Linked DNA regions of Homo sapiens: region 1 is linked to region 2. The links come from fine-mapping of genetic effects on gene expression. A gene starts in region 2. The other region holds a variant in brackets. All regions are shown on one strand. Distances are between the middles of the regions.

What was found. PIP is the estimated chance that this variant, and not a neighbour inherited with it, causes the effect. A credible set is the group of variants that fine-mapping cannot tell apart.
Region 1: its variant is the best candidate, but not a certain one, in a credible set for the expression of IRF5 in ovary (GTEx, PIP 0.79).

What each region holds. Positions count from the first base shown.
Region 1 is chr7:128,251,455-128,256,821 of GRCh38, reverse strand. LEP (leptin) reads right to left here. Exons shown (of 3, transcript NM_000230.3): 2 at 4,660-4,831; 3 at 1-2,418. The coding sequence starts at 4,803. The coding sequence ends at 2,059. Among named protein-coding and RNA genes, the nearest start is that of LEP, 13 kb to the right of the region's middle. The variant C/T (reference allele first, on the strand shown) is at 2,525.
Region 2 is chr7:128,934,754-128,940,120 of GRCh38, reverse strand. It overlaps IRF5 (interferon regulatory factor 5), which reads right to left and starts at 2,194. Exons shown (of 9, transcript NM_001098629.3): 1 at 2,072-2,194. RefSeq lists enhancers at 1,218-1,287, 1,321-1,904, 3,572-3,866, 5,282-5,367 and silencers at 1,568-2,327, 5,062-5,151.

The sequences.
Region 1 (5,367 bases), 680 kb after region 2:
CATTACCTGGCTCACGTAATGCTCTGGGTATCAGAGGACCTGGGCTATAGTCCTGGTCCTGCCACCTGTTGGCTGTTATGGTCTTATGTATTTTCTTATTTTTAAATTCTCAGTTATCTTGTTTCAAAGGGATGTGGCTATAATAGAAGCTAAGATGCCCTGAAAAGTAAACATGTTACAAAGTGCAAGCAGGGTTCCCTGTGGGCCCCTGGGCACGGCCCCCCTCAGCTCATACCATTTCCCACCTGCTGTCAACTGCACCATGCATTTGGCTGTTCAGCTGCTGTGGTAAATACCCCACCTTGGCACATGGGTGAGTGCGGTTTGACCACTGGGAATGCAAGATCCCTGAGGGCAGGCCTCAATCTTAATGTTTATTGGGTGAGCTTCTCCAGCCTATAGCACCAGTCAGGGCTGAGCATGAAGCAGGTGCTCAGTCTTAAAGTTAACTGCTTTGATTCAAGTTTCCTTGGACAGATCCACCACCCACTGTGTGATAGCAAAAACACAGCAGCAGGATGGTGGCAGACCCCAAACCTCCTCTTTCATCTTCCTGAATGTGACCTCCAGTGGGAAGGGCCATCCTGGTGGCCTGGCCTGGGGAGTCCTGGCACTCGCCTAGCAGTGCTTGTCAGGTCTCAGGACCACCTGCTAAAGGAGTTTTCTTCACCACTGGAGTAAAAACCCCCCAAGATTTTTGGTAATTTTGGCCTTGCTTGGGTGAGCCAATCAGACAAGAACTACAATTTGGCATGCAAGCCCCAAATAGGAACACTGCCATGTAATAAACCCAGAGTGTGATCAACCCTGGACCATTCAGAGGGTCACACCAAGGACCCCTGCTCTGAAGATCGCAGTCACCAGTGTGGGACCGTCACTCCATGATAGGAAAGACCACTCCCTAGCAGTCGGAGAAAGCCAGAGCTTACCACTGCCCCAACAAATGGCTTTCAGCCCTTTGCGTTTTATTCTGGATGGATTTGAAGCAAAGCATCAGCTTCTCCAGGCTCTTTGGGGTCAGCCAGGGCCAGAAACTTCTCTCCAGGGGGTGCCTGGCCAGGCCTCACAACCCCCCTGAAAGAGCTATTTTCATGAAAAACATCCTAAGCAATTGCAGAAGATAAGAAAATGATCTCACTCCTTCCAAAGAACCCACCACACAAATGTTATTCAGAAAACACATTCTAGATCCTTCTCCCTTCTGCCCAAACATTCCCCACCCCTGGGTGCAGACACCTACATATGACACTTGACAAAACAAATCTTTTTAAAATAACCTGGTCCTTGGAGATCCACTCAGGGCAACACCATTGCAAACACTGTGATGTAACATCAGTCACAGTAGAAATGAAACCAGTTACGAGAGAACTAACTGGAGAGCCACCTTTGCCAGCTCTTGCTCAGATGAACCCAACCCTCGAGTCACTCAAAATGGGTTCAGCTCAGCCAGACCCATCTATGGGATTGGAAACTGCACTCCAGGGAGACCCCTGGCCCTGGCTGACCCCAAAGAGCCTGGAGAAGCTGGTGCTTTGCTTCAAATCCATCCAGAATAAAATGCAGAATAAATAAACATGTGCTTCCAGCTTGTGTTGCTGGGAGTTCCTGCGTGTGTGGATGTGGTCTTCATGGAACTCCTTGGAATTCTCAGAGGGAACCTTGTTCTGGTCATCCAAAGGCTCTGCCTACCCCTCTGCCCTCTCTGAAATCACCCCTGGTCACATTGAGGCATTCAGTGAGGGGGAGATGGGTCAAGAGGGGACAAGACAACTCTTGTTGATGGCTGAAGACCTTGGTGGGAATCCCAGATGCAGCCCACTCTTTGCTGGGTGGACCCCCTTCCTGGTGAGAATAGGATCCTGTGTATATATCTTTGGTTTCAAGCAAAAGGAGGCTTAGGGTCTTATGCCTTTGGAAGAGTGGCTTAGAGGAGTCAGGGAAATTGACAGAGTCCTGGATAAGGGGTGTCCATGCAATGCTCTTCAATCCTGGAGATACCTGGAAGCCAGAGTTCCTTCCCTTAACGTAGTCCTTGCAGGAAGAGTGACCTTCAAGGCCTCAGCACCCAGGGCTGAGGTCCAGCTGCCACAGCATGTCCTGCAGAGACCCCTGCAGCCTGCTCAGGGCCACCACCTCTGTGGAGTAGCCTGAAGCTTCCAGGACACCCCCCAGGCTGTCCAAGGTCTCCAGGCCACTGGCCCAGGGCAAGTGGCAGCTCTTAGAGAAGGCCAGCACGTGAAGAAGATCCCGGAGGTTCTCCAGGTCGTTGGATATTTGGATCACGTTTCTGGAAGGCATACTGGTGAGGATCTGTTGGTAGACTGCCAGTGTCTGGTCCATCTTGGATAAGGTCAGGATGGGGTGGAGCCCAGGAATGAAGTCCAAACCGGTGACTTTCTGTTTGGAGGAGACTGACTGCTATGCAGGAGGAAGAGGGAGAACAAGTGCTCAGCATGTGGGAGGAATCGCTCTCAGAGCCCTCTGCCTTCCCCGTGGGCATGGAGGGTCATTCTCTGGGCTGCCT[C/T]CTTCCACCCTCCCTCACCACTTTGGCTCAGGCCCTTGTATCCTGCACCCAGGTGACTGCCAAGCCTCTAAGCTGGTCTCCGAGATTCCTGCTTTTCCCACACCATCCTTCCCTCCACTTCCAGGCCAACTTTCCTAGGTCATTCCTTTCTCTACATGGCCTCTGCTGAAGAACCAGCCATGGTTTCATATGTTTTATTTAGTGGAGTCTGTTCCCCAGGCATCTGAGGTCCTCCATAAGCACCCCCACCCCCAGCCTTCCCTAGTCCCTTCTACCCCCAGCCGAGTCCTCCCTCCCAGTCAGCTTTTCCAGGCAGTCCCTCCTCCTTAGAGATCAAGGCCGTACCCTCAGTGAGGCCCCCCAACCCTGCTCCAGTGACTCCAGTTCCGGGAGGCTCTCCCCATCCATCTGCCCACAGCACTGAGGCTGACACCTCCGTGGTTACTACCCGGGGCTCCCGTGATATTGTGTATTACACCACCCAAGGTGGGGCACTCGGGATCTATCACGTGCAGTCTTGCTGAGTGGCTAATATGCCCAGCTAATTTTTTTTTATTATTTTTAAAGGAGACAAGAGTTTTTATCTATAAAATGCCCAAGACTCTATCTAGTTCTGAGCCATCTTTGCTTCCAGACACCTAACTTCTCCCTAACTGCCCAAGACTACCATAAGACACCCACAATGACCAGGAGACGTGGAAGTCTCCAGAGAGCTCCATGCAGGGGGTAAGGAGGATTCAATTGCTTTAGCTAATTTAGGCCTCATAACAACCTTGTGAATAGTGTGTGATATCCCCATTATCCAGATGATGAAAACAAGGCTTAAAGACAGTAAGGAACTTGCTGAAGATCTCACAGACATCAGAAGTGTGAAGATTCAAACTTAATCTTCCTAATTTCAAATACAGACCTCATCAGGAAAATGGCTGAAGGTCTAGGCCTGCTGGACCCCAGAGAAAAGACCAGGGTGGGCACTGACTGCTATTTGCAAATCAGTAGAGGGTTGAATGTGAAAAAGGGTAGACTCGCTCTTTTGGGTATCTTTGAGCGGCAGGGCCAGAGATCAGCTGGAACTACAAGAACCCTAATGACAAGCACATCTAGAGATGGGATAGAGGCCCTGAGGAGATGCTTCTGGGGGTCTTGTTCCTGCCAATGGGACACAAGGAACTTCACAGCTCCCTCTGGTCGTAGGCACTAAGATTCAAGGAAGTGAAGTCAGGGAGGAAGGCGAGCGCAGAAGGTGGGGACAGAGGGGACAGGAAGGAAAGAGACAGTGGCTGTGCCTGCATGTGGCTCAGCTAATCGCTGAGGCCTGGGTTTCCCCTTGGTAGGTTGAAAATAAGCACGTGAGGCCTCATGAGAATCCTATGATTTTTTTCTTATCTTTAATTTTTATTTTTTTAAAAATTAGAGAGAGAGGTCTTGCCATGTTGCCCAGGCTGGTCTTGAACTCCTGGCCTCAACTGATCCTCCTACCTTGGCCTCCTAAAGCAATGGGCTTACAGATGTGACCCATCATGCCTGATCAAATCCTATGACTTTTATTTATTTATTTATTTATTTTGAGACAAGGTCTCACTCTGTCACCCAGGCTGGAGCACGGTGGCATGATCAGGGCCCACTGCAGCCTCAACCTCCCAGGCTCAGGTGATCCTTCCATCTCAGCCTCCCCTAGCTGGGACCACAGGTACACACCACCATGCCCAGCTAACATTTTTTATTATTTTTGTAGAGATGGGGTCTCCCTATGCTGCCCAGGCTGGTCTCGAACTCTTGGGCTCGAATGATCCTCCTGCTTTGGCCTCCCAAAGTGCTGGGATGACAGGTACAAGCCACCACACCCAGCCCAAATCCTATGATTTTTAAATGGAAACATGTAGCAAAATCAAATGTTCTTGGAGTGGTTTAGAATTAGAACCACTAACCCCTGGAATCTCAGCAGGCAGAGGGGCCAAAAGAAACAACCAGAAAGAGTGGAGCCCTGTGCTTTCAAATCCTTCTCAGCTTCCAGTAGGTGCCTGGCATTCAGGAGGCGTTCAATAAATGTTTCTTGGACTATCTGGGTCCAGTGCCACTAGGAGCCAGTGCTGGGCTGGCTGCAGTTCTACTTTGTCCCCGCATACTCTCCTTACCGTGTGTGAAATGTCATTGATCCTGGTGACAATTGTCTTGATGAGGGTTTTGGTGTCATCTTGGACTTTTTGGATGGGCACAGCTTGGACATAGAAAAGATAGGGCCAAAGCCACAAGAATCCGCACAGGGTTCCCCAATGCATTTTCCTTCCCAGGATGGGCTTCTTGGGCCTGAAAACAGAAGGAACCACACACTGCAAGGAGCCGGTATCTCAGAATACACCCATCTTCACATTACCAACCACATTACCAGACGGGGATGAAAATCAGCTTTGCTTTCTGCTCTGGCTACCATCCCCTCAAAGTCAAAGACAATTCATGATCTACATATGTATTAATGAAATGCATCCCCTTAGAAAGAGGATTATTGTCTGGTCAATAAAACCACCATGAGGTATCCTGTAGACCACAGAGCTGTGAGGCCAGGGTGTGATCAAATGGACATGGTAGGGATGATGTAGACTTCATTGCATGCTCGAGGGAAAGATAACAGACTTTTAAGGTCTGGTTTGAACCCAGTCATTTACTCACTGCATAATTTTAAACATATCACATAACCACAAAATACTCCACCTTCATCCCTGTAATATATCTATCTCTAGGCTTTTATGAGGATCAAATTATCTGATGCACGTGAAAGGGCTTAAAGGTGTTGTGAAATGTGCTCTATCATTACCCTATCATTAGCGATTATGCTACTCACCCAT
Region 2 (5,367 bases):
AGGAGCTCCCGTGACAAGCCCGGCTGTGATGAGCGAGAGTCTGTCCACCATGCCACAGAAGGGACTCAGCCTCAAGGCTTTTGCCTGCAGCTAGGTCCACACGAGCTCTAACCCGAACAGCATCCATCCTCCTAGAAGCTCCCTTCTGCCCAGAAAAGGGCTAGGTCTAATTCAGACCACCCCAATCAAGGCCCATGACTTTGGAAGTTCGGTGTCAGAACAGGTCTGCCTGCCAGGCTCCGGAGTCTCTGGGTGAAATGTATGGAGCCCTAGACCTAAGTCAATGGACCTGAGCCCCGGAAGGTGGGGAAATCCAACAGCCTGAGGAAGTCCCTACAATTGTGTGAGGCAGCGAAGCATCCAGTGGGCAGCCCTAGAGGACCTGCTGAGGTGGGGTAAGCCCACAGCTCACCCCAGGGCCATGCTGGAGTCCCAGGAGACAGTGCCCCCACCACCACCCAGGAGCTGCAATTCATGGGCACCAGGGACCCACTAGGGGAGGAAGTGCCACAGCAGTCCTAGTAAGAGTGGCCAGACAGCAGGCGCCCTGCTGCTCCCAGGGTTGGTCTGGGTCACATGTCTCCTTGCAAACCCACACCCAGCTCAGGGAGAGGACAAGGGGTTCCCTGTACAGGCCCTGACCCCCAAATCCCACCCCTCCGGGTCAGCTGCCCACACCCTGGGCCCTGCTGCCCACCTGGTCCAGACAGGCTGAGGCTCTGGGGCAAAAGGTGCCCAGAAAGAAGCTTCTTTCAGCTTCCTCCCAGGGTCAGGGTAGGGGAAGACCAGGGTACAGGGGAAAAACCCCAAAGTAGGGCCTTTAGATAAAAAGGGGTGATTTCCCAGTGCTTCCCTTGACTCTTGGAACCCCTCAGCCCCAGCACCCCAGGCCCCATAACTACTGGGGGTGGGGGCAGGAAGGGGAGGTCTTGCCAGAGGGCCTCCTGAGGGGCTACAGTTTCCTACATCGATACAGCCGAGCCCTCTCTGGTTCTGGTCACTTATCCCCATTCTGGGCCCTCGAGGAGCCCAGGCCCAGCCCAGTCCTCCGCCCCTGCTCCCCCCTCCCCTCCGCCCCCACCCCTCCCGCGTGCTCCGCTGGGGCACACCCCCTGGGCCAGCCCGCGGAGCCACCCCCACCTCCAGAGTCGGCCTCTGGACCTCTCCTCCTGCTGCTGGAGGAGCAGCACCCCGGTCCTCGCCCTGCTGTGTTCAGCGTGGCCGCGAGGCTGGGAAAGTCCCCCACTCCAGCCTCTGCTCCCAGGTACCCGCTCCCGCCCCTCCCGGGGTCCGGAGACAACCATCTCCCCACGCATCCCGGCCATGCTAGCCTCACTTTTCCTCCACGTTTAGCCTCTTCATTGTTGCCTTCTTAAGTTCTGGGACAGGACCTGAGGAAACCAGCCCAGGAACTATTGCGCCCCATCCTTTTCCGCTGCTCGGGGGACGAGAGTCTGCCATTCCCGGCCGCGAGCCCAGGGACGCAGCCTCTACCTGACACCATCTTCCCCCAAACTCTTGCACAGTTCCTGCCATTGGCCTGAAGATCCCGGGGGATGAACGCTTTAACCTCAACCTCTTTTCCGAAAGGGTGAGGGTGGCCCGGTAAGAGCAAGGGCGAGTGCATCGAAAGTAAGGATCGGGCCTCGCTCCTCTGTGGTCCAAGCCAGCCTCCAGCGGGGCTCCCGGGAACCCCCATTCTGGGCGATGGCGAGGGGGAGGGAGAGCAGCAGAGCCGGCGCCCCCCGCAGCGCTGCCCACTCCGCCGCCTGGGTCACTGGGCTCCCCGGGCGCCAGCACCCCAAACCGATCGGGGCGTGGGAGGCGCTTTGGAAGTCCCAGGCCGGCCGGGCGCACCCTGCTGTAGGCACCCACCCGAGCTCGCTTTCCAGGCGCAGCTGGACGCGGACCCCGCCCTACTCCAGTCTTCATCCCGCCGCCCGCAGGTGCCTGGGGGGCGCGGGGCCCAGTCTAGGCCTAGACTTGGGGGCAGTAGCCGGCACCGCTCCCGCCACCCTCGGGGCGCGCCGGGCGCGGACGCAGAGAGGAGAGCGCGGCGGCCGGGACCCACCTGTCTGCGGTGCGCCTGCGTGGCTGCGCCAGGGAGCACCGGCCGGGCGGCGGGACCAAGCTGAGCTCTGCCCAGGCTGCGCCTCCCGCCGGTCCGCCAACCTGCCGGGCACTTCCGCGTCTTGCCGCCCCCGCCCCTGGGCAGCTGCTGCTGAGCTCCGGGCGCGGGCAGTGCCCCGCCCCGCCCCGCGAATCCACTCCGGGCCCCGCACTGACCTGGCAACTGCAGATCCGGGCTGAGCCTCGGGCCAGGCCCAGGGCCTCCAGGGAGATGCCAGACGGCGCGGTGCCCTAGACTGGCCACTGGCTCTTTTGGCAATCTGGAATGGCAAAACTGTCATTTGACAACCCCGTACCTCCCGCTGCAGTGCTCAGTTGGGCCCTGGGAGAGGGTGGGGTGCTTCCCCACTCTGGTCCTCCGGGGCTGCACACAAATGAGGGCGCAGTGTGGCCGACCCACAGCTCCAGGCCCTCCTCTCGCCTGCCTACACCCCTGGCGAGGGTGGCTCTCGCCCTAGAACACAGTCGCTGCCCCCAGGATCCAGACACCCCTTCCAGATGTGCTTGCAGGCGGGAATCCTCTAGTCACTCTGTGCCTTTCTCATCCTCAAACCCTGCACCTGTCTCGCCCCAGCTCCCCTAAGTCGCCTTCCAGTCATCCCAGGGGCAGCGGCGTGGTCGCCTGTCCCACCTCCTCTCACTACTACCTTGACCGTCGACCTGTGGTTCTGAACCGTTTTCGATTCCATAAAGAACCTCACCCCAGAACCTCCACCTTCACACACCTCCTGTTCCTTCTCATGGAATGTTCTTCGCTTGGTAACTCTTGCTCTTCAAAATTTCTGTTTCTGAAATTTTCAGCATCGCCTTCTCTGGAAAGTCTGCCTTGACTTCCCCTCCCAGGTGGGGTTCCAGGGTGCAAATAGCTTCCTGGTTGATTTTGCTTATGATTTTGTTATGGATTGCCAGGGGTTTGGTCCAGGTCTGGCTGCTCACCGCACAGAAAGCCTATCACTGAGACAGCGAGTATTGCCAGGGAAGACTTTATTCCGGTGACATCAGCCAGTGAGCTGTTGAGAGGGGAGACAAACCTCCAATCCATCCCTCCCCTTGACTAAAGTTAGGGGCTTATATAGCAGGGAAGGAAAACAGGAGGGACAAGGAAGAGGAATTGGTCAACAGGCAGCAGGTGTACTGATGTAAGTGTCTCAAGCTTCAGTTCTATGAGCATCTGGCTTTTTGGAAAATTCAGCGGGTTTCAATTTTGATGTCTGATTTCCACTCGAATCAGCTTACTCAGGAACCTCCCTCCTGTCTTTTCATTGTTCATTTTATTTTATTTTATTTTTTGATATGGAGTCTTGCTCTGTCACCCGGGCTGGAGTGCAGCAGTGCGATCTCAGCTCACTGCAACCTCTGCCTCCCCAGTTCAAGCGATTCTCCTGCCTCAGCCTCCCAAGTAGAGACGGGGTTTCACCATGTTGGCCAGGCTGGTCTCGAGCTCCTGACCTCAGGCGATCCACCCGCCTTGGCCTCCCAAAGTGCTGGGATTACAGGCGGGAGCCACTGCGCCAAGCAGAGCCTTGTATTTTTAACAAATAAAGTAGTATTTGTTGATGAATCAGAACTTTGACCTTCCCTCCCCTCCCTTCTCCTGGGTTGAACTTTACCTTTAACAAGTTAAAAAAAGACACTCATGTGTTAACGTTTTTTTTTTTTCTCTTCTGTATCTCTCCCTCTTTCCTGACCTTTGAAGCCCTAATATGAAGTCGAAATATCATTATATATAAGTATTTTATTATTTGTATCTGCTGAGTATTTCATTATTTCATATTTTTAAAATTTAAAGTATGGATGGGGAAAATGTGAATGGGTAGATCGTTTTATATTTCTTTCTTTAAAAATGAAATTGCTAGGCCAGGCACGGTGGCTCACATTTGTAATCCCAACACTTTGAGAGGCTAAGGCAGGCAGATCACTTGAGTCCAAGAGTTCGAGACCAGCCTGGGCAATATGGCAAAACCTTGTCTCTACAAAAAATACAAAAATTAGCCTGGCGTGGTGACACACACCTATAGTTCCACCTACTTGGGAGGCTGAGGTGGGAGAATTGCTTGAACCCAGGAGGCACACCACCGCACTCCAGCCTGGGCGTAGAAGTGAGATCTTATCTCAAAATAATAATAATAAAATGAAATTGCTATTTCAAAAGTGGCTCCCCACAAAATGGGAACCTTTTTCACTGGAGGTCAGTTATGCTTAATAGAAAAATATTCTATGCTGGTCGTATCTGGAGCAATAGCTAAGAAGAGCCTTCTTTTGTTATCAAATACTCCTCACCCATTCTGAGGGACCGTGAGACCCTAGAATTCTGCCCTCTGCCCCCTTCCCACTGTCCATCTTGCTCAGGTGAGGCCCCTTCCTTAGAGCCTCTGAACCTCAAGAAGCAGCACGGGCTGCGTGCAGAGAAGGGGCTTGCACCTGGCTTTGCTGTATTCCAGCCAAGTGGCCTTAAGTAGGACCTCAAATCTCATTTCCTCGTCTCTAAAAGGGGGATGATGTTACCAAGCCGGCAGCATTGATATGGGGCTCCCGGGATAGAGGCTATGCAGGGGCTCAGCTTGGCTCAGATCCTGACTTCCCTCAACTGAAAGAACCTGAGCCAAGAATCATCTGGGGCCAGAGACATGGCCCAGGAGAAAGGAAGGACAGAGAGCAGCACTCCAGTGTTTCCAGGATCTGGGATCCCTTGGCCTCCCAGTGCCATCCTGGGGGTGGAAGGGCAAGTAGAGGGGAAGTGAAGCCACACCCGGCCCTTGTGTGAGCACTCCCATTTCCCCTTGATGGGCCAGGAGGCGGTGGGGACAGGGAGGTCTGTCCGGGCCCCCCACTCCCCACAGTGAGATGGCCCCTTCCCCCATTTCCCCTGGCTGGAATATCACAGACTGAGGGTGTGGTAGGAGGCACCCTCCCCTGACTCGAGTAGAAGCTACGCTGTGTGAGCGAGTGTAGAGTGGGGTGGCTGGGGTGGGGAGCAGGGGGGAGGAGGGAAGCCGTGTCACCAAAGGGAACTGAAAGAAACCCAGAGGCCCACTGGGCAGCTGAACAATGCACCCTGGCTCTGGAACAGCCCCCTTCAGTGCAGCCTGGGTTGATGACAACTGCCTTTGCCTCTCAAAACCTCTACCCCAGGAAACCCACCCCCTCGGCCTGGGCTCTCAGGGGTCCCCAGGCTGACTGTCCTATTTCTCAGAAACCCCGAGTTTCTGAGAACTTGTTGGCTGGACATCAGGCTCT